Linked DNA regions of Homo sapiens: all the other regions are linked to region 1. Evidence: fine-mapped expression QTL. A gene starts in region 1. Each other region holds a variant in brackets. All regions are shown on one strand. Distances are between the middles of the regions. Region 1 holds the start of GLUL (glutamate-ammonia ligase). Region 2 has its middle 85 kb from the start of ZNF648. Region 3 has its middle 120 kb from the start of ZNF648.

What was found.
Region 2: its variant is fine-mapped to the expression of GLUL in whole blood (INTERVAL, PIP above 0.99).
Region 3: its variant is fine-mapped to the expression of GLUL in whole blood (TOPMed, PIP above 0.99).

The regions. Positions count from the first base shown.
Region 1 is chr1:182,386,469-182,395,950 of GRCh38, reverse strand. It overlaps GLUL (glutamate-ammonia ligase), which reads left to right and starts at 4,161. Exons shown (of 7, transcript NM_001033044.4): 1 at 4,161-4,272; 2 at 7,201-7,379; 3 at 8,659-8,820. The coding sequence starts at 7,214. RefSeq lists a silencer at 3,746-4,425 and an enhancer at 9,088-9,482.
Region 2 is chr1:182,140,985-182,151,520 of GRCh38, reverse strand. No RefSeq gene overlaps it. Among named protein-coding and RNA genes, the nearest start is that of ZNF648, 85 kb to the right of the region's middle. RefSeq lists enhancers at 6,626-7,293, 7,294-7,962 and a silencer at 7,971-8,147. The variant T/C (reference allele first, on the strand shown) is at 4,869.
Region 3 is chr1:182,172,583-182,183,118 of GRCh38, reverse strand. It overlaps the pseudogene YPEL5P1. Among named protein-coding and RNA genes, the nearest start is that of ZNF648, 120 kb to the right of the region's middle. The variant A/G (reference allele first, on the strand shown) is at 6,170.

The DNA of each region.
Region 1 (9,482 bases):
TCTTCCCAACTTTCCACGTAGTTTCCTGCTAGAGACATGATTCAGGGTAGAGCTCAAACAGACCCAAACCTTCCATCATAACACGCAGTTGGGGAAATGAAGTGTTCCTTGTATTTGACTGATTTCAGCACGCATCCTACAAAACTCAAATCAGGCTACAGATATGGCTGAGACGTGAATTTCCAATTTCCTGTCTTGAACTGAAGAATATCAAACAATCAAAAACTGTAAAGAACAATTCCTCCATTCTTAGTGCTAGTTATTGAACTGAAGTATAATGTAAATGTAGTCTTTCCTTCTCTAATTGTATAAAGTGAAATTTGAAAGCTTGGCCAACTACAGCTTTTCCCTAAATTATGGTTTAAGAATAATGCTATCAACTTCCAGAGCTATTTCTTTTCTTCTTCATTTTTATTATTATTATTTTGATTTGGTTTAAGATTCTACTATGGTCCATTCTTTTGGAAAGAACTGATGTTGGTTTATTACATAATAATAATTTTTAAAAGAATATTTTACAATTCTGGGTTGGGTTTCCAGGGTGTTCCCCAACCCTGAGTCTCAATTGTATCTCTTTAACATGATTTAAAGGTCTCACTGAATGCCTATTGAAATCATTCATACACAGGGAAAACTCCATTTCCTAAACAGAAAAGGTTTGGTCAATGTGAGCCCTACCCTAAATTTTGTGTCTAATGTGTATAAGGCAACCACACAGGCCCTGGGAAGGCACTCCAGATCCCCAGGTAAAGGACTTCATACTTGCAGAGTGAGAATGGATCCTTTAAAAGACAGAGAAAGGGCCGGGCACAGTGGCTCACGCCTGTAATCGCAGCACTTTGGGAGGCCGAGGCAGGCGGATCACAAGGTCAGGAGTTCAAGACAAGTCTGGCCAATATGGTGAAACCTCGTCTCTACTAAAAATACCAAAAAATTAGCTGGGTGTGGTGGCACACGCCTGTAATCCCAGCTCCTTGGGAGGCTGAGGCAGGAGAATTGCTTGAACCCGGGAGGCAGAGGTTACAGTGAGTGGAGGTTGCAGTGAGCCGAGATTGCGCCACTGCATCCAGCCTGAGCAACAGAGTAAGACTCCGTCTCAAAAAAAAAAAAAAAAAAAAAAAAAAAAAAGAGAAAAGTTGTTTCCTAATAGAGATAAGATTTGGGAGTAGAGCAAAATCCTAATACAAAGCTTTTATTTCAGGCAGCAGAACAACATTGAAGAAATACTTTTAATCTCAGGCTATTTCTGCAGATTTGGAACAAAATCTTTCCCTGTAATTGCTCTCCCACTCCACCCACCCCTTGGACATGGCAATTCTACTCTAAGAGAGAAAAATATGACTTCAAAGCACATGCAATGGAACCCCTTGTCAGCACTGATATGGTGTGTACCAAGAAACAGAAAAGTTCATGGGTTCAAGCATTCTAATGCTCTTTTTATGGTGGGGGTGAAGAATGGGGGCGGGTGGCAATTTAGGGAAGAAGGGGAAGGAGAAGAAAGGGCAGCAGACACAGCAAAGTCAAACTGGATGAAACAGGCTGTTTTACTTTTAACTTCTCTAAAAGTACAGTCTGGGTTTCTGCGGGTGAACCAGTTAAGGGTTTTCTTCTGCTTTTACTTCTCGCCTATGCTCAAGCCTCCCTGGTCAGTTCTTGGACTCATCTGCGCCCTAATTTCATCATTTTAAGTAAATGTGGGGCTGGCCAAGGAGGACAAGGCCTCTTGTTCACTCCTGAAAGAGTCAGTGGTCATGTATTATGTTCCTAACCCTTACAAAGCGTGCCCCTGGTCACATGAATGGATCAAAGCAAATCCATTTCCATTCTTGGAAAAGCAGCTCAAAGCACATGTTCTCTTGATGGTGCTGCTGTCACTTCTGTGTGGTTAACAAATATCATTTATTGAACACTCACCGTGGACACTACTGGGGGATATGACAATGAATAAACTGCTCAATGAGGTCAAGACATCTAGGAAGGGAAGCAGGCACTCAAATGGCAGAAATACCATAAGCCTGCAGAACCGCACTCACGCCTTACCATTCCGTTCTCTGTTATGTTTGTCATCCCCACCTCAGGGGCTGGTGGTGTGTGCAGCAGAGGCTCTGGCTTATGGTTCGGTAGTTTGGTATCTGGAAATGATTAATAACATCTTTTAAAATAAAAATATCACTTTTCTCCTCCTTTGCTCCCCTTCCTCGACCATTTAAACTCAAACCTTTACAGAAAGAGATGAAGACAGCTCACTGTGTTACCAAGGTTAAGTCCAGTTTGATATAATGAATGGTAAAGCATTACACTGAGTCAGAAAAGTTGTATTCAAAAGTCGCTATGGGGAAAGAAAGAATCCAATCACCTCAGATTATAGAACTTGGCCTATGATAATTATAATTGCTGTTTTCTAAACATTTACGATGCACCAAGGACTACTCAATCTCTTCTGCATGTGCTATCACAATTAATCCTTTTATGAGGTAAAAATGATTATCCCTCTTTTATTATAGACAAAGAAACAGGCTTCATGTGGCTAAGTGATTTGGCCAACACAAAGCTGGTATGAAGGGAAAGCCCAGATTTGAACCTAGGTTTACCTGACTTGCAGCCGTGCCTTTAGCCACCACAATGTAATGCTTCAAGGGGCAGCACTGAAATTTAACAAGGAATTTGTAAGGCACCTTACCCAATCCAAAATGTCACCAGTCTGAAACATCCCAAAAAACCCTGTTTGAGATGAATGCTGCATCTGTCATGTAAAAGCACTACAGTGTTATACACTCTTAAAGGAAAGGGATGTTGACCAAAGAAGCCAAGTTATGTGTGTGTGGTTGCAGGCAACATTTCTTTTCCACATTTGCGGTACAAAACATAACCAGAACAAACTTCTTCCCTTCCTCTTCCAAAGGCACTGGAAGCATAAATTCTTGCTCTTTAAACTGAAAGAAGCAATAAAATCTGGACACCATCAGGTAGATTTCAGGCACTAAAAATAGAATGATCGAGTAATAGTACGGATAGCAGTATCTACCTACCTACCTACCTACCTACCTATGTTGTGTCTCTAGGTACATTTCAATATTGTGTTCACATACACATTTTCCCAACCATCACGGCAAGCTGAGAGGAGAGGTATGTATTCCCATTTTCCAGATTAACAAGAAGCCGCACTTGATAAAGCAAAATCAGGGAGAATTCGTTAAAGGAATTTCTTGACAATCCCTGGACTTCAAAGGGGGCAAGTGAACACCTCGATTTCCTTTCAGCTGCTCCGGGGGCAGTTTGCACACAGAATTTCAAATCTAGTGGGCGGCTCCACAGGTCATTTTCGATGACCACTTTATTTTGCAGATGAGGAAACTTGGGCCCTGAAAGACCTGCCTAGGGTCTGGCCAGCAGTATGAGACAGGTCTCCAGACTTAGTTTCTACCGCCCTCCAGAATCCTCTCTGTAAAATTAGAGAAACAGCACGTTGATTTCAAATGTGAAATGGCAGAGTTCTGTTTATTTCCCCAGACCCAAGAGAGCCGGAGCGGGCGGCTCTTCCAGGCCTTGGGAACCCCGGCCTGTCCCCAGGCCCGCGCGGCACCCGCCCTAGCCCAGGCCCGCCCAAAGTTCCCTCGGGTCCCGCGCCCCGCGCTCCCTCTCAAGCTAACCCCTGCCCGCAGGAAGCGGGGCTCGGAGGCTCCCTCGCAACAAAAGGCTAAATTCGGTTTCCCTGGTTCCGCATTTCCCCAGGGAGCTCTCCTCGTAAAACTATTCCCCGTGAAGGCGGCAGGGCAGAGGTCCAGGGCGGGCTTTGCTGGGAGCCTCGGGACCCCGGGTTGGGGGCCGTGGGGCGGCACCTGGCGAGCTGGCGGGTGGGCGGCGAGCCGAGGCTTCCCGGCCTGGCGGCAACTCGCCCCTCTGCCCTCAGCCCTCCCGGCTCCGCTCCCTTCCCCCACGCCGCCCTGCCCCTCCCCCACGCCCCTTTCTCTTTCTTTCTTTCTTTCCCAGTTCGCTTGCCCCCACCCCAGCGGCGCCCGCCGGGCTCCTCGCCCAATGGCCGCGGGGCCCGGGACCGCATCAGCTGATCGGCCCGGGCTCCTGGCCGCTGGGAGCCAATCAGGGCACCGGGGGCGGCCCCGGGCCGCGGATAAAGGGTGCGGGGCTGCTGGCGGCTCTGCAGAGTCGAGAGTGGGAGAAGAGCGGAGCGTGTGAGCAGTACTGCGGCCTCCTCTCCTCTCCTAACCTCGCTCTCGCGGCCTAGCTTTACCCGCCCGCCTGCTCGGCGACCAGGTAAGCCCCCGGACGGCCCGGTGTCACGCAAGCGAGGCGCGCCGCCCCTGCTACCCCGCGAGGCGCGCCGCCCAGCCTCTTTTTTCGGCTGCCTGCCCCTCCAGTCCCAGCCCTACGCTGCGGCCTCTCCGGCCCATGCCTGAGATCCGGCATGAGTGCTCCTCCCGCGTGCTTCCGCCGCTGGTGGCTTGGACCCGTCGGGGCTGGCGCTGGTGGGGCGCGCCCTTGGCCAGGCTCTGGGAAGGGCGGGGTGAGTTGTTTTGATCTTCTTTTCACTACTTGCGGCCGAAGCGCCGCCCCTGGAGGCCGTTGGGCCGGCCTGCGCCCTGGGGCTCGCAGTGGTTTGTTTGCGCTGTGGATGGAGTGGCGGTGCGGTCCCCTGTGGAGCGCAAACAAGGCGCTTGGTTGGCGCGGGCGCCTGGCTGCCTTCCTCGTGGTGGGGCCTTCGGAGCAATCGTCCTGGTTCTGGCGATGGTTGAGACGCCTCGATTGCGGCGTGTAACGGTGAGCGTTGTTTGGGCGGCCGGCTCCCGCCTCGGGGTCCCGGGGGCCTTCCAATGTGACCGAACAATGGAGAGCCCGGGCCTCGGCGCAGTCAGTGGAGAAGCCGGTCCGGGCGGAGGCAGCAGCAGCGCGCAGTCCCTACGGCCTGCGCCCCCACCCTCCCCCGGACCCCCCAACCCCTCGGCGGCAGGGTATGGCCACCTCCGTGAGGCCCTGAGATTCGGACGGGGGCCCGAGGGGCAGGGCGCCCACTTTAGGGACATTTCAGTGGGAAGGGGCTGCTCTCAAAGTGGATAATTATAACTCCCTCGGGGGCGGGAAGCGGGGATCCTCCCCCAGCCGCAAGTCCACGAAGAAAGCAACGAATGAAAATTATGAAGACAACGAGAAGTCAGACTCCTCCGGGTCGCGCTCCAGCTGCTTCGGCTTCGTCGCCTACTCTGTGAACTCCGGGGAGAGATCTCGAGTCAAGATTAAGACCTTAACCCACCAACCTGCCTGTTCGGACACCCCCCGGGCCGGCCGCTGTCTGTCCCCTTCTCCATCGCCCTCTCCCAGAAAGCTCCGGTGCTTGGACCAGCTAGAGTCTGAGAAAGAGGAGAGGCGCGAACGCCACTCCAAAAAGAGAAGGGTTAAAGAGGGCAACCCTAACGATACGCTTGACTTTCTGTGGCTGGGGTGAGTGAGGGGGCAGGGAGGACGACCCCGGAGTTGGTGGGAGCTGCAGAAACTGCTGAAAACTTCAGAATCCATTTCCCCCACGTAAACTTGGCACCGCAGCAGCAGCAGTTGATAGAGTGGCACTAGGCTGCTGGCATGCAACTCGGCTCACGGAAAAGAGCAAGAGATCCGAAACTGAGGCTTAGGACAAAGTGTGCATGATATTGGTGGTGTAACATGTTGGAGAGGACAGCCGAGAAATTGGGTTGTAGGTTTTTTTTTTTTGTTTTCCGACAGAGTCTCTATCTGTTACCCAGGTTGGAGTGCAGTGGTGCAATCTCCCGGCTCACTGCAACCTCTGCCTCTGGGGTTCAGGCGATTCTCCTGTGTCAGCCTCCCGAGTAGCTGGGATTACAGGCGTGCACAACCACGCCCGGCTAATTTTTGTATTTTTAGTAGAGACGGGAGTTTCATCGTGTTGGCCAGGCTGGTCTCGAACTTTGTACCTCAGGTGATCTGCCCGCTTCGGTGGGTTGTAGCTTTTAGCGGGAGCTAAAGGGTTCTGGGATGGAGGTGGGAAGTAGGATTTGGCCGGCTGAGTCTTCTAGAGGCAATATTGGGGTGTTGGTCTTCCCCAAGGGGAAGGGTGGTGAGGCTGAGGGAGAAGCAGTTATGTTTTCAGCTGGGCAAACATGGACGGTTGCCCGTAGAAACTTTGCCACTGTACTTCAGAACGTTGCCCTAGTCGTTGGAGGAGAACAATGTGTTCCCTTTCTAGCCACCCTGGTCCACGGAGGGAGGAGGGAGAGAGAGAATGTTTCCTCTTCGGCTGTTGTGGCTTGAGAGTTTCTCTTCTTTCGGAGGTTTTGTGGTAGTGGCTGGCAGTTATTAGTATGCCTCATGGCTTTTAAATTTCCAGATCTTTTTGATTTAGAAGTGGAAATTTCCTAATTACTTGACAAGTCTTGTAGAATTCCATAATGTTGTGATTCTTGCCCACTATCTTAAGTGAGACTTTGCATGAGACCTATGGAAATTATGGCAGCATTCCCCTTAGAATCTGGCTTGAATCAGCTTTTGTGTAGGAAACTGCTAGCCTTCTAAAAAAATATATTGTAACCTTGTTTCATCCTCAAATCTAAATGTGTAATGAGTTTTCTTTTGGTGGGGAGGGGCGGTGGGTTTGAGTTAAGACCACAGCTAGGATGAAAGACAAAGAGAAAAACAAACTGTGGAAGCCAAGCCTGTTCTGTGGCTGGATTTTACTTATATTGGAAGAAGTTCTATGTTTTGTAAATTTGTGTATTGGTTTTGATTTGTTTCCTCTGATAGTTTAGTATTTGGATAGTTTAGTGTTAACCTCAGCTACACTGAAGGAATAGACCTTAGTCCTCACAAGTATAAGTTCTAGCTTGGAAGCCTGGGTTCTGCAGTAGCTGTGGAACTTAAGCCTGTGAGCTCAGGGATGCAGAGGCATTGAGTTACTACCAAGGGCCTGATCTTTTCTTTAGCAGGCATCTGTGTTAATTGTTTCAAAAGGTGGTGATCAGTTTTACAGCCTATTATAAAGGAGATTTTTGCCTACTATAAAACTAATCCCCCTGAAAGAGTGAGTAAACATAACTTTTTGTGTGTTGACTTCCACAAGGGAAGGAGTTGGCACTTACACTCTGACTTTTGATTCAGTCGTCCTTCTTGAGCCATTTTTGCAGGGGATCAGTTTGGAGTGGGCGTTAACAATGTTATTCTTTTTTTCTTCTCCAGAACACCTTCCACCATGACCACCTCAGCAAGTTCCCACTTAAATAAAGGCATCAAGCAGGTGTACATGTCCCTGCCTCAGGGTGAGAAAGTCCAGGCCATGTATATCTGGATCGATGGTACTGGAGAAGGACTGCGCTGCAAGACCCGGACCCTGGACAGTGAGCCCAAGTGTGTGGAAGGTGAGACAGCAATGTGGAGTGGAGCACATGCTGGGTGGGATCTGCAGAGGGGTGGGCAGCAGCCTTTGACTCAGCCTCTGGATTAGGCCTCTTTCTTCTGTTTGTAAAGGTTTTCTAAGGCAGGGCTTTTCAGACTTTATTCAGTCAACATTAAGCTCCTACACTGCCTCAAAGCAGAGCGACGATGGAACCCTTTATTTCAATGGAATTGTGCACGTAGGCCAGTGTATTGAAGAAAAACTAAGTCTGGTTTATGGAGAGTTGGCATGGGGCTTAGAGGTTGCCGACCTGGACATCCCCACTTAGCTGGCTCTAAGGCACCCTCAGAAAACCACTGCTCTAACCTGAGAATGCCATCTAGTTTACAAACTCTTAGAAAACTGTGTTTAATACTCATATCACTGGCTTCTAGATGTGAAGCAAATGCTCTACAATGGTTTTTAAATAGGACTAATTTTTAGTTGATGCCACTTTTGGAAATTCTTAAACTAATTGCGTATCCCTCTAGGAGCTACAGTTAGATTATAGTTGTGACCTTCATTTTTCAGTCTAGAACAAGCCATAGTCTTCCCTCTTCTGGAAAGGGGCCAGAGGAAAGTATCATATCCTACCTAGTTTAGGGTAGTTTACTTTTCCTTTTTGAGTAAGTGAATGATCATAATACAAAGCCTATATTGTGTACTTGCTATGTGGCAGATGATAGTGCACAGACACTGAAGATACAAAGTGAGAGTCTCGTCTCTGCCTTCAGAGAACTCAGTCAGCTAGAGAGACCAAGCAGCCTTCAAAACAGTGGGAAAGGTGGATAGGTGATAAGGGAGCATCCTAGAGTAAGTCATCCTGCTAGTCGTCTGTTCCCTCATCTATAAAATAAGGACATAACTTGCCAGAATACACTGGGGGCATAAGAAGGATGCAACACATTACCTAATGGAAGAATCAGAATCCTTCACTATCTCAATATTTTAAGTGATTGATAGGATGGTAGTGATAACAGAATGCTTCAGCTTGTCTCCTGGAAGACATTTGGGAAGGGAGTATCTGATATATTTCTTTTAAGGAATTGGTACAATGGTCTTACTTGGAACTCAAATAGGAAGGGCTATAAGATCAGGTACAGGTGCCAGGGTATACATATTAATGATGGCATTTATACCTTAATGAATTCCTGGAAAAGAGATATTTAGAGATGGGAAGGTGAGTGAAGGGCTGGCTGTATTTGCATTGCTTGGAAAGCTCCTGTATGTTTTAAATGTAATTTTCCCTCTTTTTGCCCCAGAGTTGCCTGAGTGGAATTTCGATGGCTCTAGTACTTTACAGTCTGAGGGTTCCAACAGTGACATGTATCTCGTGCCTGCTGCCATGTTTCGGGACCCCTTCCGTAAGGACCCTAACAAGCTGGTGTTATGTGAAGTTTTCAAGTACAATCGAAGGCCTGCAGGTGTGTTATAGCACAGCTATGGATACCCCTCCTCAATCTGTGAATGCTGTGAAGGGGAGGGAGAAGACATTCTGAAATCAGCATTGGGAAGACTAGGCAATTTCAGCACTATTTTAAGAATCTGAGTGATTCTTTTCCCTGAACTTCTGCTTTGAGGAAGAGATAATATGGCCCATCTTTCTATGGTCTTCTCTGTTGGTTGCATAAAATAGCATTGGATTTGTCCAGATCTGTTTGCCGGTCTTGGAGTCCCCAGTAACAGCCTTCCTGCCTGGAATGTAGGCCAGGACAAATGTAAACCAATGGACAAATGTTTCTCAAAAATTATAGAATGGCTCCAAGTGCCTGAGAAATGAAGAATAAATCTGACAACCAGAAGCAGCTGTCTTGTGAATAGAGGGTTAAGTGCCTGGCATTTGGTGCTTGGGAGGTGGCCAGAATGCAGATAAGGTGAAAGTTGCCCTGTTCTAAATCCACTCCCATGTGACTTGGTTGTAACTGAGTTTAGTTAAAACTGAAGTCTTTCAGAGTCTTCCTACAGATGTACAATTAACAGCTTCTCTCATTTTTCTGACTCGGTGATCCCAAGAAGGCCTATACTGGGTCAGTTCATACCATAGTGCACACCTCAGTTGTATAGAATCCAAGGACTATTCTCCCAT
Region 2 (10,536 bases), 240 kb after region 1:
TATAGGTGAGCCTTGACTAATGCAGGGATTAGGAGCACTGACACCCAGTGCAATTGAAAATTCATCCGTGTATAACTTTTGAGTGGCCAAAAACTTAACTACTGATATCTACCATTGCTTGGAAACCTTACCTATAACCAGAAACAGATGATTAACATGTATTTTGTATGCTATATGTACTATACTGTCTTATTACAATAAAGTAAGCTAGAGAAAAGAAAATATTATTAAGAAACTCATGAGGAGAAAATACATTTATAGTACAGTACTGTAGGTATTGTTACTGTAAGTTTATGTTGTCTGTTTCTAAGATGAGTCCTCCATCTGAAATGGCAGATGCCACAGCTGCAGACCTCAGTCTATGGTACATATCAAGCAATTCAACTTCTTCTAGGAATGTCATGACTTTTCTCTATTTTTTGGGAGCACTTCCAACATTATTAGTGGCACCTCATATAAGTCCCACAGTGTTACTCAAAGTTTATAGGAATGCACTAAACATGATGAAAAATAAGTGAGAACCAATTTACTGGAGAGACAAACTGCTCACTCTAGATGATCAGCATCACACAGTGTTTTAAGTGGATACTCATGATATTGGAGCTCACTGCAATAGCAGCAGGGGGTGACTCCAAACGGTTAACTTTATGCAGTGACAACTTAATACTACATCTTTATGTTTGTTTGGATTTCTCTTGACTGCAAATGGCACTGGTCTGTAAGTGTGTGTGTAAATTTTGATAAATTTTAACTTATTTTTACAGATTTGTATATTTTATGGTAGTAAATGATAAAATAGACTAACATCTTTTTATTCTTTATGTATTTGTGACATAACCTTTTCTTAATTTTTTGATATTTTTAGGCTACACCGTTGGTCTGTGAGTTTTTTTCAAATTTTCACAAATCTCCAAACAATATTCCAATATATTTGTTGAAAAAAATTCACCTGTAAGTTAACCCATGCAGTTCAAACTTGTCCAAGGGTGATCCGTGCTTTATCTAAGTTCCCTACTTGTTTGTAAACTGTTGATGATGATATCCACCCCTCAGGATTGTTTTGAGAACAACCATAGTAAGGAAGCAAATGCTTGAGAAGTGGTTAGCAGAATGTCAGCACCATGTAGCAGATGTTGGCTGTTGTTATTGCCTGATTTGGATGGACCATGGGCCCAATTTGAGGTGACATTTCCTTTGGTCTAAATTTAGGGTTTCAAAGGAGTAAGTATGTCAGTGCCTGCCTTCATGAGGGATCCTAATGAGCATGCATGTTGTATGTCACATAGCAACATACCCAAGGACTGTCCCTCTGTGTACTTGTAGCATTGAGTGGCCTGGGTCACAAGTGAGTTTGATTTTAGGTATCTAAAGTCTTCAACTGTCAAGTTCAAAAATCCACACAAGACTAATCCTGTCTTGTTCCCAGGGCTGGGCTAAGACTTAGAGGTTTTTCAGGGCAAGAAATGAATAAATTAGCTGTAAGAATGTCAGGGCCAGGCTAAAACAACATGGTCTGAGGGAATGTGATATTGAGCTGGGATTGAAATCACAGGGAGCCATGGCTGGTCTATGCAAAAAAAGAAAGTTAAAATTGCTTGTAGGGGAAAAATACCAAAACACACAGCTTTCAGGAGTCAAGGCAAACAAGGAGAGTAATGGCCTAGTAAGAGAGAGGCCATGAGGAACCTACCTGGAAAGACTGAATGGCCAAACTAGAGGCCATGAGGATCCTATCTGGGAAGATTGAATTCAAAGCTGAATTCTTGAGCCAATAATTTACCCAAAGCTGGGCCGTGAGGGCCAGTCTCAAGAAGCTCTAAAGAAATGCAGTGGACAGAGAGTGGGAAGTTAACTACAGTGACTCAGCAGGGCTTGATTCAGCCGTCCCTTCCCCTTTGCAGACTGCTTTTGTCATGTGTTAGGTGATGTATGTTGTAATGGAGCAAGGATGTTGCCACCATGGCAACGTGAAGTCAGAGCTCTTCTGAGCTCATTTCTCGGAACCACTTCCCCCTTCCCTTGACGAGCTTTCTCATGGAGCCCTCTGTTACCAGTCTTTCAGAAGCACCTCCACAGAGATCTTCTGTCGTCAGATGCTCCTATCAAAGACAGCTCCTCCTCTTCTTCTGTCTTCCTCTAAAACCTAACCCCAGGTTCCCCTCAAAGGCTTCTTCCTGAAGCTTCTCCTGAGTTCACATATCTCTGTTATTTTGAAAAGAAACCCCAGTACTCAGTAACAGTCAAGATGTGAAAGAAATGAGACTGAATCAGAACAAAGTTGGACCTCGGATAGTGAACAATAATCACAACCTCCAATCTTCCTTTAGTATGAAAGCTCTGGTCTCTGAAGTCCCTCTCCAAGGTCACTGCCTGGTAAGGGTGGCAAGGGCTGACATAGGTCTTAGGTCCTTCCTAGCAACCTGGCTGTGCGTGGGAAGGAATGCAAGTGTTTTCTTACTCTCGTACATCTTTGCTGTATCTCTTAGTTTTCGTCCACTCCTGCCTCTTGTCCCTGCATGTTTATCTCCCTGCCAGCAGCCCTCCACCTTTAGAGCTTTCCCTAATAACCTGAGGACTTCCAGAGTGAAGCAGGAATAGGGAGGCAGTGAGATGTAATAGGAAGATCTTCCCAGAGCTGAGATGTCCCAGGTGTTCAATGAAATATTTTGGGTTTGGTAGAACATTTTTAAAAAATATTTTTGAACATTGGCACTAAAAATAAAACCCAAACTCATCCCTTCTCCTTTAGATTTTTTCCCAGCTCCTTTGCACCAGACATTCAGTAACTGATACTCCTTGAGCATCTAGTATGTGCTGGGCACTATAATAAGCTCTAATGAAACAGAGAAATCAGAGTTCTTGCCCATAAGGAAGGAGTATACAGTCAAAGAAAATTCCAATTATATTTATCATTTGCTCACATACACCTTAGAGACCTACTATGTGCCAATTCAGTTTTTATCAAACATAGTCTACCGGCCTAACCTGATAAGTTTGCTGGTAGAGGAAAGGAGGTAGGAAAGTTGGTGCCTGCCACTGAGGGGTAGGGTTTAACAGTAATAGGAGAAGGAAGTAGGAGGAAGGAAGGATGGGAATCGGGTAGGGAACCACGGTGTCCTCCTCTTGCCTGGGGCCATTGGAGACCCCCCACATGCTGTTACTCACACCCATGCAAGGGGCTTCTTTGCTCATCATCTGGGTTTCCAGGTAGGGCTGGGCCAGCAGAAATCTATAGGGGCAGAACATCCCACCCTGGTGCCTTTCTCTGAGGCCAGGGCCCATGGGAAAAGCTAAGGCAGGGCTGTGGCCTCAGATTACACTGTCACTCCCACGAGGCCGAGGAGTTTGGAGAACAGGGTTCTGGCACCGAGGAAGGCCTCTGAATTCTGTCTCAAACCCATGATTAACACTGTAATCTTAAGTCACTTGACCACTCTGTGCCTCGGTTTTCCTCAGCCGTAAAAAGGGGAAAGAGTACCTAAATCATTGGGTTACTATGAGAATTAAATAATTTAACCCTGCATAGCATATAGTTCATGCTCAGCAAGGGGTCACTGGCCCAGACAGTACACCAAGGACCCACACATGTGTCTTCTAGTCAAGCAAGCGTTCAACCAGACTCAAATTTTATCAAAAACTATTGTCATTATCTGAAGCACATGGTAATGAAGTCGTCTGAATAACTAGTTCAAAATTGTTTTGAACATAGTGATCCTTGGAAAATGAAAAAAATATATAAGTATTTTTCTAAACTGGAATGTGGCAGGGAGTAGATTAGGAACCCACTTTCCATCACTTTCCAAACATGACCAGATTTAACTGGACATATTCTGACACTCCATCCTGGAGATGGCTTCTTTAAGGAGCAGTTGTTGGGCAACAGCTACTTTCATCATTTTGGTTAGAAACTAACCCTGAGTAACCAGTCTTATGAGAGAAAACAGTTAATGTCTTAAAAATCTTTCTGACTCCAACTCCAGTGAGTAGGAATTTTAAGTCATGAATACTACTAATTGTAATACCCTGACTACTGATTATCATTATAGCTAACATGTATTGAGACCTTACTAAATACCAGGCACTGTCATAAGTGCTTTGCATGCATTAACTCATTTAGTCATCAGAAATAACCCCCAAATTGGTGTTATTTTCATTTCTGTTTGACAAACAAGGAACTAAGGCGCACAGATGTTGAGAAACTGACCTGTGGTCACACAGCTACTCTGCAGGCAGCTGGTACTGTGGCTCCTACGTGTAACTGGCCCTAACAGACATAGCTCCTCGCTGTTCTCTTAAACTTAGTACGTGGGGTTGAATATTCCTTTCTTATGGAAAGATTACAGTTTCATTTTTCTCAGTGAGGAAATTATTTTCATAAATTGATTGGATTTATTCTACACACAAGGTATTAGAATCAACATAGTTTTTTTTTTTTTAAGTTTCTATGTTTCCATTTTACTTTTTTTTTTTTTTTTGAGACAGGGTCTGGCTCTGTCACCTAGGCTGGAGTGCAGTGGCATGATCCCAGCTCACTGCAACCACTGCCTCCTGGGTTCAAGTGATTCTCCTGCCTCAGCCTCCTGAGTTGCTAGGATTACAGGCATGCGCCACCATGCTCGTCTAATTTTTGTATTTTTAGTAGAGACGGGGTTTCACCATGTTGGCCAGGCTGGTCTCGAACTCCTGACCTCAAGTGATCTGCCTGCCTCGACCTCCCAAAGTGCTGGGATTACAGGTGTGAGCCATTGTGCTTGGCCCATTTTACTATTTTTATGCTTACTTTGTATCTACAGAAGTGATATAGGTTTTGCATGTAAAGTGAAATTATCACTTTTACTTCTGAAACAAAATGATTTAAGTCAGAAAGT[T/C]TGCTTACAGGAAAATTAATGTAGTATGAAGCAGTATTACCAGGTGTCTGTGGGTGTGGTTGTGTACCCTGAGGGTATGGTACCGCGGGGCTGGTATGTGTACCCTGAGGCTTGGTGAGCACCTGGTCAGTGAGCCGGTGTTTGCCTGGACAAGTCTGAGCTGCAGTTGACACAATGGCCATTGGCCAAACTGGTGGAAAGTTTCAATGACAGGTAAACAAAAGACTGAGGACCAGGAGGGGAACAGCCAAAGAGGATGTAGGTATTACAAAGGAGAATTTGGGGAACATTCTACTAACCCGATAAGTAGCCGTGTGTTCAAAAATGTCTTTTGCCCTTCCCTGAGCCAGTCTTCCTTCAAAATGTTAACAATACCACTGTTTCTTTCATTCCAAGAAGCTTGATCTTCACACCTGACATTTCAGAGATCCTGTGTCTTACAATTGATGTGTATGTTTAACAGAGAAACATTTTTCTTCTCCTTTCCCCCTAAAAGCTGTTATTAACTCGCTGCTGTGTCTTAGTCAATGGCTTCTTAGAGTCTAGAAAATACAGTAAGAGTGATGTACGAGAATACGTGGTTTTGAATGTGGTGCTTAAGATACATCTTTGACTTAACAATTGCCTTAAAATCCTACCTTAACAAAAATTTAGCTCTTACTTTCAATTTTGATTTGCTTTTGATTAGACACAAGTAAGGAGTGAAGCCAGACACAAACCCAGCTCTTCTCATTTGAAGTTCAGAATTCTTTCCCCTGCATTCCATAATTTCTCCATATTTATCTCAGAGGACTATGCAGAATATGACAGTGGGTTACCATGGAATATCTGGGCAAGGAGCTCTAAGAGTAAAACTCCAGGCCAAAGACAAAACAAGTATTCAAATCCCAAGGCATCTCTGTGAGATGACAGATGCTCTTGTCTGCTCTTCAGATCCGAGGGGTTTCCGGAGGGCCAGCAACCATGCCCCCAACACGTAGATGGCTTAGCTTGCCTAAGAAGGGCGGGCATTGTAGAAATCTGGACAGTTCTGCTGACCTTCCTCTTTCTGTCTCCCCACTCTTGATTTTTTATGTTAGTCCCCATGGCACACCCTCTTTGTGAAGTCTCTCCAAATGGAAGCACAAGCTCTCCCGAAGGATCCCACACCCCACAGAGTGATCTCTAGGGTTGCCCATAGCAACAGCTGGTACCATGGAAAAAAGCCTTCCTTTCATCCGTCAGAGCTGGGCAGTAGGACCCTCTCCCAGGACCCCAGGAACAAGGTCTTTTTCTAGCTCTGCTATGGAAACTTGGGTGACACACATCACCTCTTGGAGCCTCAGTTTCCTCATTTACCAAATGAGGCTGATGTGAAGTCATTTTAGAGTCCCACTGAGGACCACTACTGTGATTTTCCTTCACCAACATGAGATACATGTGGCTGGTTTCAGGCTCTTTCCTGAAGCAGATCTTAGTACTGGGGAGGATGGACGGTGATGTCGCCACTGAGAGTGATGAGAGAGAGCAGACCCACCACCAGCTGCCCTCCTGATCCTTGGAAGGCCAGTCTCACATCTCAACATTCCCAGCCACCTTGTTACCAACGCTTGTGGAAAATTTGATTTGGACAGAAGGGACTCCAGCCCCTTTTAAGTATACATATGCACATGCTTTAATTATTAACTGCTTAATGTTGTCATTGAAAATATTTATTTTAATACTACTCTAAAAGAGTGAACATTTTTCACGTATTGACCCACAGCTGATTTCTTATCTGCTGTTACCAAGAACAAGAAAGGAGAGAATAAAGCTGAGGAAGGTGGCAGGCTCGATAAATGTTAGATTGAACTGTTCTTTTTCAGTGCATGCCCTGCCCTTATCACTGATATTGCCATTTTCTACTTTCTTTTTTTTTTTTTTAAAGTGTATTTTGAAGGCAAATAAGAAAAGAGAGCTATGGTGTAGTCTGGAAAACCAGGGTGTTTACCGTTTAGAGGAACCAGAAGTTCATAAGGGCCTGGCTGGACTAAGAAATGACAGCTCAGCACAGGGAAGGGGGGAAAAAAACCAACAGCAGCAGCAGCAGCAATGCAAGAACAAAACATTTTAAGAGATCTGGCCAGAACTGGTCTGTACAAATCCCCAGCTTGGCCTTCCTCCTCCACTCCCCCTGGCTCCCAGGCCTGTTTCCCGGAGTAGTAGCAGCCTTGCCTCCCCTTAAGAAACCTGCCCACAACTCACACTCCCTACATGCCAGTCATGCACACTCGTGTGTGTCACACCCTCTGCTCATCCCCCCACCCACTGAAGTCAGACCATGTGTGAGGGAGGATGAGAAGCCGGGGAAGAGGAAGACAGCTCAGCTGGCTGGCCCTGGCCCCTGAAGAAAACAAGCAGAGGCAGGGAGGGAAACATACTGTTCCCTGCAATCTGATCACCTCCGTGCAAGCCTCTGGGCTACACACCCAGGCCCAGGCCCAGAGGCCACGCTAATGAGACCAGGCAGGAAAAGTGAGCTGGTGACTGTTCCTGGGCAGATTAGAAACACATTGTGGAGAAGTGGGGGCACGGTGAGGGTGTGCAGGGCAGTGTGGTTGAGGCTGGGTGTGGGGCTGGGGCATGCGGGCCCAGAAAGGAGCAGAAGAAGGACTGCTGTCTTTCTGAGCTCTGATTCCAGCTCCTGGGGTGGCCCCCTGGCAGCTGCTGAGGCCTCACAGTGAGAAATCTGGAACAACAAAGGCTCTGGGACAAAAGACTCTCTGGCCAGAGGGGCTGCTGCTTTACAGGGGCCAAAAGCTTCACTTCTGAGGGGCACGTGGGTCCACCAGTGTGGGAGGCTGCAGGCTGAGAGGCAAATGGGGTTTATTGAGGAAAGGGAACAGATGTTTATTGGGCATTTGCTGGGTGCCCCCATTAAGCTAGGCTCTTTTTATGTATTTCACTGTGTTTGAGATCACTGTGAAATCCTCACTGCATCGGAAAATGGGAAGCAAATAGCTTTTTTCTTTTTATTAGGTCAGTGACACCTAGAGTTCGCCCAATATCACATCAGTGCCATTTGTTTGAAAAGTTAACCAGAGGCCAGCTGGGATTTTTGTCACTAGGAAAACAATGTAGCATGCGCTTCTTTAGCTTCCAGTCCAGGCAAGGACCTTCGGGGGTGTGAGGATGGAAGTATGTCTTCATGCTTTCTCCTGTGAGCCGCCAACCCACAGAACTGCTGGACCCTCAGCCCTTCAAATCCATCCTCCGGGAAGGTGCCTCTCAAACCTGCAGGGCCACCGCTGAAGTTCTCCCACGGACTCTACTCTAGCGCCCTCTGGTGGCCACCACTGCCAAGCCTGGTTGACTTGACTGGGAATTTCTGGTTAATAGCAGCTACGTTAATATCACTTAGCCCAGCTTTGTGAAGGTTCACTTGTGCTTTTACTTCACCTCTGATTTCTGCGTTATCATTACTCTTTCCATGTTTCCACAGCCTTTGTCAGTTCTCTGCTGCTTCATCTACGTTATTTTCATGGGGACCTGTGTTATTTTCATGGGAACCCCAAAATCAGGGAGATGTTTTCTTACCAAGATCTTTGTTTTGTACTATATTGCCAGTGGACCAACTTCGTTTTATTGGAATTTTTTTTTTTATTTTCTGGAGGATCTTTCTCCCTTCCTCCCCTTAGGAATTCAGGACACATTTCTGAAAGACTGGTTTTACTATGTGAGAAGCACAATGTTGTATACTATTTGAATTTGAGCTTCCCTTGTCCAGGGACGGAGTGTGGGCATGCCACCTCTGTTCAGTTATGGGGTGAGTTTCTTGGCCGCCTGGGACCCCTGCCTCCCGCCCAAGAATGCAGGTGAGAGCGTTTGCCCCTGGTTTTGACCAGGATGCCCAGTCCTGGTGTCTGAATTCCACCCATGAAGCCTGACCAAGCACAGTGGGAAAATCAGCCTATGGCCAATGGACATGGAGGCCAAGTTTGAGGGAGAGGGAGTTTGCCCAGAGTGGCAGCTGCAGATATGATCTGAAGGGTAAATGCTCACTGCAAAACAGGAGGGGAGCCAAGGTCAGAACCAGAGAGGCAGGGTCAGGCAAAGGGCATAGAGAAGAGCAAGAAGCTAGAGAGAGGAGAGGAGGCACACACACAGTTGGGACCAAAGAGGCCAGGTGAGATCTGGGAGGGGATGGTGAAGAAGCACAAGGCAAGGATGCCAGGGCTCTCATCAGGGGCCTGCTGTGTGTGGCATGGGTCTAAGTGGGTAAACCACAAGTCTGCAGATCTGACCTAGTTCACAGAGCCAAATGTACTCTCCAGATGTCAGGTTACTGTTTCTCCAGGGAGGCCCGTCAAGACCACAGGTAAATAGAATCCCCAGTAAGCCAGCCCCATGGCACAATTCCATGGATATAGAGCATGGGTATCTCTGGGGCCTTTGTCACACGAGTGTAGCTGGTGGATTAGCAGGGCCTTTATTTATGTCGGGCTTCATTTACTTGTTAATTTGTTCTTTAATCATTTATTCACTTCTATTTGACCAATGTTTTCAGGTGTCTACTGATGTTCTAAGTAAAATCCTGGGTAATGGAGCAGAAAGACAAATAAGATATGGTTTTGACTATTGTAAAGTCTGGATTTTCTGATTCAAAATTCAGTATCCCAGCCAGGCATGGCGTCTCATGACTGTAATCCCAGCACTTTGGGAGGCTGAGGTGGGCAGATACTTGAGGTCAGGAGTTGGCCAAGACTAGCCTGGCCAACATGGGGAAACCTGGTCTCTTTTAAGAATACAAAAATAGGGGCCGGGTGCTGTGGCTCATGTCTTAATTCCAACATTTTGGGAGGCCGAAGTGGCCAGATCACCTGAGGTCAGGAGTTCAAGACCAGCCTGGCTAACATGGTGAAACCCCCATCTCCACTAAAAAATACCAAAAAATTAGTCAGGCATGGTGGCAGACACTTGTAGTCTCAGCTACTTGGGAGGCTGAGGCAGGAGAATTGCTTGAACCCAGGAGGCAGAGGTTGCAATGAGCCAAGATCACGCCATTGCACTCCAGCCTCAGCGACAGAGCGAGGATCCGTCTCAAAAAAAAGAAAAAAAAGAAAAAAAAAGAAAAAAGGCTGGGTGTGGTGGCACATGCCTATAATCTCAGCTACTCAGGAGGCTGAGGCATGAGAATCACTTGATCCCGGGAGCCGAAGGTTGTAGTGAGCCAAGATCATGCCACTGCACTCTATCCTGGGTGACAGAGCAAGACTCTATCTCAAAAAAAAAAAAAAAAAAAAAAAAAAAAAGAAAGGAATCTCTGTAGTCTCTTTGGCTAATCTCCAAAATCCTGCTTTAGGCTCCCCAAAGCCAAACCTTTGCCAAACCTTTTATTTGAAGCTGAGGTGGCAAAAGGATAACCACACAAATTCCTTGAGCTCTGCAGGTAAACAGCTAGGTCCAGGGAGGCTACAGGGTGACCTCACCCAGCCTCAGGTCATAGGCTTATAGTAAGCCACAGCTGCAGGTATTATCTGCACCTTAGAGAATTTCTCCAGGCTTCACCACCTGAACTCTGCTACAAACCCTTCCCTTCTCTGTGCTGTTTTCCCTGGATCATGATCCTAGAGTCTCCTTGCCTAGGTCCTCTGCTTTGATGATGAATCTCTGGAATGTTGCCCATGAATTTAACTTCCATTTTTCCCTT
Region 3 (10,536 bases), 210 kb after region 1:
TTTTAAAATTTCAGCTCCAAAAATGGGCAGAATTTTCCTTGATTATATTGGCAGTACCCATTTGTTTTCTCGTGCAAACTGTGATATAATCCTGACCAATGGCTCAGAACTCAGCTCATCTCTACTAGGTGCACAGGCACCACTAGCAGGGCGTTTCTTTGTCACAAAGTAGTTAACCTACAGTATGGTGAAGTTCAAGATCGGATCATGCTCACTGGCTGCCACATGGTTCAAGGTGTGAGCTACAAAAACCGCAACAGCCAACTGGGATGGATCTGTGAGTTTGCCACTGAAGACAGCCAGCATTATAAGGAAGGCTGTGTGATTCTGAAATGTGCTCTAGTTAGAGAGAATGAGGGCTTTGAGGAGCATGTACCATTCAATAACTCTTGGAAGAAAATGAGCTCAATCCATCTTTTTCCAGGTTTCCTTCACTGAAAACAAAAATCTGCTTACACACACTGCCAACTTAGTATCAGAGTCAGGTTCATAAACTGTGGAACAAGAGGTTGTGAGAATCTAAGATGGAACCTTTCTTTCTTTTTTTAAAAAAAGTTTTGTATTTTCCATGTAATAGCAGAGTGTGGAAAGAGTATTATGCAGATGTCATCAATTTTTCCCTATGTTTACATCTTAAGGCAGAAGAGTCTGTCTGCAACCATGTGATGGGCTGTGTAAAGAAAAAATCTGGGCTATTAGAGTGGAAAAGTGTGTTTTATATAAAATTTGAAAGGAAATATGTCAAGAGCATGGGTTTTTAACTTGAGCTTCATTTTAAACTTATTTTTTAAAAACCCAATTATTTTACCTGATTTGCTACCTTCAGAGAAGAGATCCAAATCTGGGCCGAGCACTAAGGACTCAGTTTTGGCATTACCTGTGCCGGCCAATGTGCCATATTCTTGTTGGAGATGAACCATAGCATTTTCCTTGCCAGTCTTGACCCAAAGGTGTCACCATTCCAGTTATTTATCACCATGTAATTGGTGTTGATTGGAAACTTTTTGTGAAATGGGGAAGAACTGCTTTGTTGTCTTTTTCTTTGTAACAAGCATAGTAATATAAATAAAATAATAGTTGGGAAAAAAATCTTACAATATCCCTATAAAGTATTGAGGCACAGAGAAGTTAAATAAACTGCCCATATTTACAGGATTTGGGATGATGGAGCTGAGACTTAAACCCAGGAAAGTCTGTTTCCAGATCCTATGCTCTAAACCACTACACTCTTTGATTTATAATGCGAGGAGATTCCTGTATCCAGCAGGAGTTCAGGTGTTATTATTTCTGAGCTTCCCTCCAACTTAGATCACTCAAGCTCTTTCCAGGGCTAAGATGGTTGGTATCTAGTGCCATTCAACAGTTATGGAACACTGACCATTCACCAGGCTCTGGGCTGGGCACTAGGGGCATTCAGATAAGTAAGACAAGACAGTCCTGTAATAGACAAAGGTGCAGGGAACTTCCATGGTCCACAAAGACAGAATCACAGTCTTTCCTCTGAGAGTTGGCAAGCTTGTAAAGAAGGCAGTATTTGCTTTTGAAACACCCTGCTCTCACCTTAGCTCATTTTGTCACCACACTCTCCTTTCCAGTGTCAACCAGCAAACCCACAAACATCTCACTGTTGAGGGAGGGTTCCTGACCGTATGTGGCACTAAGAAGGCTGAGCAGCAGAGTGAGCATGGATATAACCAGGCAAACTTGTTTTCAAGGCTCAGCTCAGCCACTGCTGGGTGGAATAAATCATGTGTTTAAGGCAAAGCAGCCAGAGATATTAGCCCCCCTCCGATACCTGCCAGTTATGACTCATTCTCCCCACTTCACCTAAAGCTATCAGATCTGGACAGGAAAATAAAGAAGTATTGTGTAATCTGTGCAATCATTCCGAATTCTATAAACATGGGCATTATATTTAACTTCTCTGTGGCTCAGTACTTTATGGGACTATTGTAAGATTGTTTTTTCCCAACTATTACTTTATTTATATTACTATGTTTGTTACATGGAAAAGGACAACCAAGCAGTTCTGTCACATTTGAGAAAAATATATAGGTACACACACACACATATCTATATATGTGTATATATATATGTATGTATGTATGTACAATTGTCCTATAACTGAAGATATTTATTGAGCCCTTGCTATATACCAGGCAGCATTCATGAGCTTTACCCATCTTAGTTCATTAAATCCTTATCATAACCATGTTGGATCAGTGTCATGGCAGCTACATTTTACAGATGAGAAAATGAGACACAGAAAAATAAAGCAAATTGTTCAAAATCACGGGGCTAGTAAATAGGGAGTCAGTTTAGCACATAAACAATACTGTTTCTGTCACTAAAATAGAAAATTGAGGCACTGAGAATCAATAAATTAGCCTGAAAGCCATGGTAGGGCAGTGAGAGGGTCAGAATGCCACCGGTTAAGTGTGTTCACCATGTAGGGGCCTGTTTCTACCACTCCTGTATCTCCCAAGAGGACACAGAAAAGATCCTTGGCGATCCTTCCTCCAACAAACATGGCTGTTGGTGGCTTTGTGTAGTGATATACATTCCTCAATGTCTATGTATGCTCATGTATATATAGGTTGGTGCAAAAGCATCTGCAGTTTTGCCATTGAAATTAATGGTAAAACTACAATTACTTTTGCACCAACCTAATACTTGCTTTTCAGGGTCCCAGTTGCATAAAGGCTAATCCCTCTGCTCATCCATTTTTAGAATGTCAGATGCTAATCACTTCCAAAGAAGTGATTCTCTGCATTTTGCTCCAAGCATTGATCCATCAGTTGCCTTTGCTCTTCACAGAAGTGAATCAGGACACTGGAGATACAAACGGTGCCAAAAACCTCTGCCCCTAAGGAAAGAAAAAAGGAGCATTGGATTGTTCCCTTCACAATCTGACAGGCGCTTGAGAAGAAAGAGCCCATATTTAATATGGTTAATGCATTTTGACTTTAGAGAAATAATAATTTTCATAGAAAAAAAGGGTAATATATTTCAAGCGTAAGAAGTCATACCATCAAGATGAGAAAGTTCAAAGTATATCCATGAGACAGGAACTTAAATTCTGGACTGATTGTGCTTGTATAATCTATAGCAGGTAGTTAAACTCCATGAATCTCAGCTTTCTCATCTATGAAATGAACCGAGTTTTATAGATGAGGAAAGTTTGTCTGGCAGAGCATCACAATGCAGTAAATGCTAGTTTATGTTTCAGTAGTCAGAAAGAGTAACGCGCAAAAAAGCATATTTTCATATTTTTCTCTCTTTTTTTTTCTGACATGGAATCTTGCTCTGTCACTCAGGCTGGAGTGCAGTGGTGCAATCTCAGCTCACCGCAACCTCCACCTCCTGGGCTCAAGCGATTCTCCTGCCTCAGCCTCCCAAGTAGCTTGGATTACAGACGCACACTACCGCGCCCAGCTAATTTTTCTATTTTTGGTAGAGACGGGGTTTCACCATGTTGGCCAGACTGGTCTCAAACTCCTGACCTCAGGCGATCTGCCTGCCTCGGCCTCCCAAAGTGCTGAAGTGATTGCTTTAGTGTCTATCACCCAGAGACGGAGTTAATGGAGTTATAAGACTGCCTGAAAAGATTCTCTGAAACAAAGCCTCTGGCTTCATACAAAGCATCTCAACTCACGTTAAAAAGTTCAAGGAAGTAAATTTTAAAGTTGAAATTGTAGAACTTTTAGAAAAGAACCTACATCCAAATTCCTGCCATTTGAGGATAGTCAAAAATTTATTAGACTCAAAAAGCATAAAGCATAAAAAGTTAAAAATTGATACATTGGATTTCATCAAAATTAAAAATTTCTTCCCTTTGAAAGACATCATTAAGAAAATAAAAAAGTAAGCCAAATACTGGGAGAAAATAGTACCAATTCATATATTAACAAAGGATTTGTATCCAAGACATATGCAGAACTCTTGCAACTAAATCATAAGACAATCCAGTTAAAATGGACAAAAGACTTGAGCAGACATTTTACGGGAAATATATGAAGGGCTCCTAAAAGATGCTTGACATCGTTAGATAGACACACACACATTAAAACCATTCTGAGATACAATACATATTCATTGAATTACTAAAATTAAAAAGACCAACAAAATGTATTAGTTTCCTATTGCTGCTATAATAAATTACCACATACTTACAACAACACAAACTTAATGTCTTACGGTTCTTGAGGTGAGACATCTGAAATGGGGCTTACGGGGCTAAAATCAAGCTGTCTGCCGAGCTGCATTCCTTCTGGAAGCTTTAAGAGAAAACCTATTCTTTGACTTTTCTATTTTTTTAGTGGCTGCCCTCATTCCTTAGCAGATGACCACATCACACTGACCTGTTTTCATCCTCACATCTCCTCTAACACTTCTGCCTCCACCTTCCATATTTTAAGGACCTTTATGATTATATTGGCTCACCTGGATAATCTCTTCATCTCAAGATCCTTAACCAGGCTGGGCATGATGGCTCACACCTATAGTCCCAACACTTTGGGAGGCCAAGGTGGGAGGATCGCTTGAGCTCAGGAGTTCAAGAGTAGCCTGGGTAACACAGCAAAACCCTCTCTCTACAAAAAATAAAATAAAATAAATAGCTGGGCATGACAGTGCATACCTGTAGTCCCAGTGGGAGGATCGCTTGAGCCCGGAGGTTGAGGCTGCAGTGAGCCATGATTGCACCACTGGACTTCAGCCTGAACAACACAGAAGAGTTCTCTCTCAAAAAAAAATACTAAAAAAGAAAAAAAGATTCTCAATCACATCTACAAAGTCCCTTTTGCCATGTAAGGTGACATATTTACAGGTTTTGGGGATTACAACATGGACATCCTTTGGGAGCTATTATTTTGCCTACTGCAAATATCAACTGTTGGTGAGAATGTTGTGATGGTTAATTTTATGGGTTAACTTGACTGGGCTAAGGGATGCCAAGATAGCTGGTATAACTTTTTCTGGTATGTCTGTGAGGATATTTCCAGAAGAGATTAACACTTGAATTGGTAGAAAGAAGAAAAACACCCTTCAATGTGGGCAGGCATTGTTTCATCCATTGAGGACTCAAATAGAGCAAAAGAAATAAATAAGGGCAAATTCACACTCTCTGTTTAAACTGGGACACCCATCTTCACCTATCTTTGGACAAGAGTAGTACTCCTGACTCACTACTGGCTTTCTTGGTTCTCCAGCTTGCAGACAACTTCTTGCCCTCTGTAATTGTGTGAGCCAATTCCCATAATAAATTATATACATACATAGAATCTCCCATTGGTTCTGTTTCTTTGGAGAACTTTGATTAATACAGATGTAGAATACCTGGAACTCACACTGCTGGTGGGAACATAAAATGATACAGCTATTTTTAAAAGCTATTTGCCAATTTCTTAAAAGTTTCTTACCTAACCACCCAGCAATTTCACTGCTAGGTATTTACCCAAGAGAAAGGAACACATATATCCACACAAAGACTTGCACACACATGCAACTTTATCATGTCCACAACCTGAAAAACAACTAAAATGTCCATCTACAGGTGAACAGATTTTAAAAAGCTATAAGATACAATATTATATTATACTCTAATAAAAATGAACAAACAATGGGTATATGCAACAACGTGAGTGAGCAAAACACCACCAAACACAGAAGAGAGAGTACATATTGTGTGATTCCATCATATAAAATTCTAGAATAAGCAAAATTAACATGTAATAACAGAATCACTCGGGACCCAAGTGGACTGTAGACAGGAAAGAAGAAATTCTTGGGGTGATGAAAATGTGCTAAATCTTGATTGCAGTAGTAGTTACATGAGTGTATTCATTTGTCAAAACTAATTGAACTCCATCCAACAAAGGAGTGCATTTTGTTGTATATTAATTATACCTCAATAAAGTTCAATATTTTTCTGTTCTGAGAAGGATATTAACTGCCCCCTCTGATGAGGCTAAATAACTTCCAGGAATTTCTTCCTGTCTAGCAAGAAGTTCTTCAGGGGCCAGTAGGCTCCATTTCCTCTTACTTTGCTCTCAATTGAGGTTAAAAAAAAAAACTCTATGGAATTTGGATCTCAAAGAGATATCTGCACTCCCATATTTCTTGCAGCATTATCTACAATAGCTAAGGTGCGTAAGCAACTTAAGTGCCC[A/G]TCAACAGATGAATGGATAAAGAACATGTAGTATATATACACAATGGAATACTATTCAGCCTTGAAAAATGAAATCCTGTCATTTGCAACAACATGTATGAACCTGGGGGATGTTATGCTAAGTGAAGTAACAGGCACAGAAAGACTAATATCACATAATTTCACTCATATGTGGACTCTCAAAAATTTGAACTCACAGGCGGGACATGGTGGCTCATGCCTGTAATCCCAGCACTTTGGGAGGCCAAGGCAGGTGGATCACTTGAGGTCAGGAGGTCGAGACCAGCCTGGCCAACATGGTGAAACCCCCATCTCTACTAAAAATACAAAAAATTAGCTAGACGTGGTGGTGCATGCCTGTAATCCCAGCTACTCAGGAGGCTGAGGCAGGGGAATCGCTTGAATCTGGGAAGCAGAGGTTGCAGTGAGCTGGGATCGCACCGAGACTGCATCTCAAAAAAAAAACTTTTTTTTTGAACTCATAGAAGAAGAGAATAGAATGGTGGTTACCAGGGGCTGGGAGGTTGGGGGCAGGAATGGGGAACTCTTGGCCAAATGGTACAAAGTTTCAGTTAGACAGGATGAATAACATCTGGAGATCTCTTTTACAGTATGATAACTATAATTAATAATAACGTATTGACTACTTGAAAATTGCTAACAGTAGATTTCAAGTGTTCTTACCACAAAAATTGATAAATGTGTGAGATGATTGCTATGTTAATTATTTAATTTCAATATGTATACTTATATCAAAACATCATAATGTACACTGCAAGTATATATAGTTTTGTCAAGTATACCTTCATAAAACTAGGGGGAGTGGAGAATGGCTCCTCAACAATCTTCAAGTGCTGTAAGGCACTTAGCCAGGACCTAAGTCCCCTGAAAACCATTCCTCCAGGAGGCTTCCTCCAACTGTAATTTGCCCCTGTGAATATGCCCATTCTCCCTATTGTGAAGAGCCCTAAGTTGCTCACAATTGGAGAAATGACTGAGCCAAAACAAAGGGATGAGCTGCAATGTGATCACAAATTTGGAAGGAATCCTGATGGACTGTCTCATTCTGATTTGTTCTGCTTTCTCCAAGCTGGGTCTGTTTTACTCAAGCAATTGAAAAATGTCCATGAAATGCCACATGCTATGCCTTGAATTAATTACAACAGCTCTCATTTATTCAGACCTTATTCTGTCCCAGGGGCCGGGCCAAGTACTTTATGTGCATCGTATATAAATTAATCTTCCTAGCAACCTCATGAGACAGATACTATTACCACCTTCATTTTATGGATAATGGATTAAAAGTCAAAGTGGTTAAGTGACTTCCTCTTTGTCAGTGGAGAACCATCCAGGGTTTTACAACTGCAGAGCCCATTAAACCATTGTCGTATACTGTTGATCCTTGTTCTCACAGATTTCAACATGTTGGGAGGATGACATAGAAACCTGAAACTAAGCATACAGGGAAGTGGGCTCTAGCCTATTTGAAAAGGCTCTGGAGGGCTGGGCGTGGTGACTCACATCTGTAATCCCAGCACTTTGGGAAGCCAAGGTGGGAGGATTGCTTGAGCCCAGGAGTTTGAGACCAGCCTGGGCAACATGGTGAGGCCCTGTCTCTATTAAAAATTAAAAAATTAGCCCAGCATGATAGTGCATGCCTGTAATCCCAGCTACTAGGGAGGCTGAGGCGAGAGGATCACTTGAGTCTGGAAGGTCCAGTCTGCAGTGAGCCTTGATCACACCACTGTACTCCAGCCTAGGTGACAGTGAGAACTTGTCTCAAAAAGAAAAAAAAAGGATAAGGCCAGGCACAGTGGCTCATGCCTGTAATCCCAGCACTTTGGGAGGCCAAGGCTGGCGGATCATGAGGTCAAGAGATCGAGACCATCCTGGCCAACATGGTGAAACTCCATCTCTACTAAAAATACAAAAATTAGCTGGGCGTGGTGTGTGCCTGTAATCCCAGATACTCAGGAGGCTGAGGCAGGAGAATTGCTTGAACCCGGGAGGCAGAGTTTGCAGTGAGCCGAGATTGCCCTACTGCCTGGCCACAGAGTGAGACTCCGTCAAAAAAAAAAAAAAAAAAAAGAAGAAAAGGCTCTGGAAAAACCCTTTTCTACTCTCCCCTCTCTAACCTGTGCTTTTTCCACACAAGCATCCTGGGCTTTTGTAATTAGCAGAATGCTTCCAGACTGATGAGCTGTATGCCTCATCAAATTCCTGATTCCTGATATACAGAAGAGAGACATGAAGGAGATGCTTTTTAAAGAGTGTTTGCAGAAAGCAAGAACATGGCATTCATTCACTTAATCATTCTGGAGCTATTACTAAGCCAAGTCATTGTGTTGGTGCTGAAGATATATTAAACAGACTTGGATCCTATTCTCAAAATGTCATGTTCTAATAATTATCACGTCCTATCACACCTTCCCTGTTGTTGGCCAAATTTCACCTCCCAATCTGAACTGTCATCGTAGCCTGACACAGCCAGCCCTGGCTCTGGGATGACTCTCTGAGTACTGCTTCCCTGATGGGAGTAGGATGGCTGAGGTGTGGCGTTCCTGTGGATTGGCCAAACAATCATTCAGGAAGGAAGGAACTGGTCTCCCCTTTCCTGTTCTCCCTTCCCTTCTCAGTGAACTATAAGGAAACAGTGAAATAGCGGTCTGGGACTAGCCGCAGGGACCCTTAATAAATTGCTTCTACACATCCCTCTTGCTTTTTAATGGAAAGAAAAGGGGTGGAGTAGATCTCTTATACAATTTCAAAATTGAATTGAGTTCAGTTCTGTAAAATAAATTCTAAGTTACATCATAATGGTATGGGAACATAGAGATCTGAGCCAAGGAAACATGAACAGACTGTTCCTAAAAATAAAAAATAAAAAAGTCTTGGTGCAAGAGCAAACATGAACAAGGAGTAATTAGCTTCTCCAGATGCTGGGAGTTACATTTCCCTGAAAAGAAAGAAGTTCTGGAAAGCTGAGCCTTGGCCAGAGGCTCAGGCTGACAGTGAGTCACTCACACAGAGCCTGGCACATTGTAGGCACACTCTGCAGGTGGTTGCAGCTGTCTTGATAGTTACAGAGGACACACTATTCAGGATCGTACCTACTTTAGAGGGAGGATTTCTGAATTTATTTTTTTTTTTAAGTTTTTGTAGAGACTAGGTCTTGCTATGTTGCCCAGGTTGATCTTGAACTCCTGGCCTCAAGTGATCCTCCTGCCTCAGCCTCCCAAAGGGCTGAGACTACAGGTATGAAACAACATGCCTGGCTTTGAATTTATTTGTGAATGAATAAACAAACCTGTCGTGGGAGCCCTTACTCTGTAGAATGGAGCAGGGCTACATGATAATTTAAAAGATACTACATGGCTGTGTCTGCCAAAAAAAAAAAAAAAAAAAAAAAAAAAAAGATGGTTTTACTAAAATTCAGAAATGCATTGAACTTTTTCTGCATTCTGAGCACATGTTATGGTGAGGGCAACAGTGAGTAAGAAATAGTATCTATTTTCTAAAAGCTACAATTTAGCATATGCATGTGTATGTATTATATGTATACGGGTAAAAACTGGTGCCATTTGGAATTTAAATGGCCACTATGAAATGAGAAGGGTGAGCTAGTGGGAATCAGGGGCCTTAGATGGACTCACTGGTTTATTCACTCAATTTGGAATTCATCCAAATCCATCACAATTTGTACTGAGGGGTGGCATGGGAAGGGTCAGTTATAAATGTAATAGGTATTATGAAATAATACATGTAGAGGAATAAAATCTATCACTCCTTGGAGAATCTAGGAAGTCTTTTTGGAAGAAGTTAAATTGACCTGAACTTGAAGGAGAAGTTAGGGCAAACATTCAAAGAAAAGGGAATCCCCAAACAAAAGTAGAAAGCTACAGGGATGGAAAGAATATTTGAGAAAGGGCTGAAAGACCCTGTAGAAACAACAATGAGCTGTTTGTCTTTACTCTGAAGCTGTGAATCCTCAGTGCTCTGGTAAGCAGAGCTACTGCAAGACCTTCATAAGCCCCAAGCATAGAAATTATTATGGTATTTCCCCATATGCTATTTCAAAGTACTAAATTACAAAATAAGGTTAAGTCCAATAAAGTTCTCATTTTGCCCATTAAGAATAGTTTAATCCTTTAAAAAAACCCAAATATCAAATTCTTTTTTAAAAATATGCTTCAGAATCTCTGGTTTGAGATATTATTTAGAATAGGAGAAGCTTTGCTACAGCAAAAATGAACTCTAAAAACTCAATGGTTTAACACTCATGAGTTTGGTCAGGGTAGCCCCTATGGGCAATTCTCCAACTGAATTCCACCTTTTAAAATTTATTTGTAAATTCAGAGATACGAGAG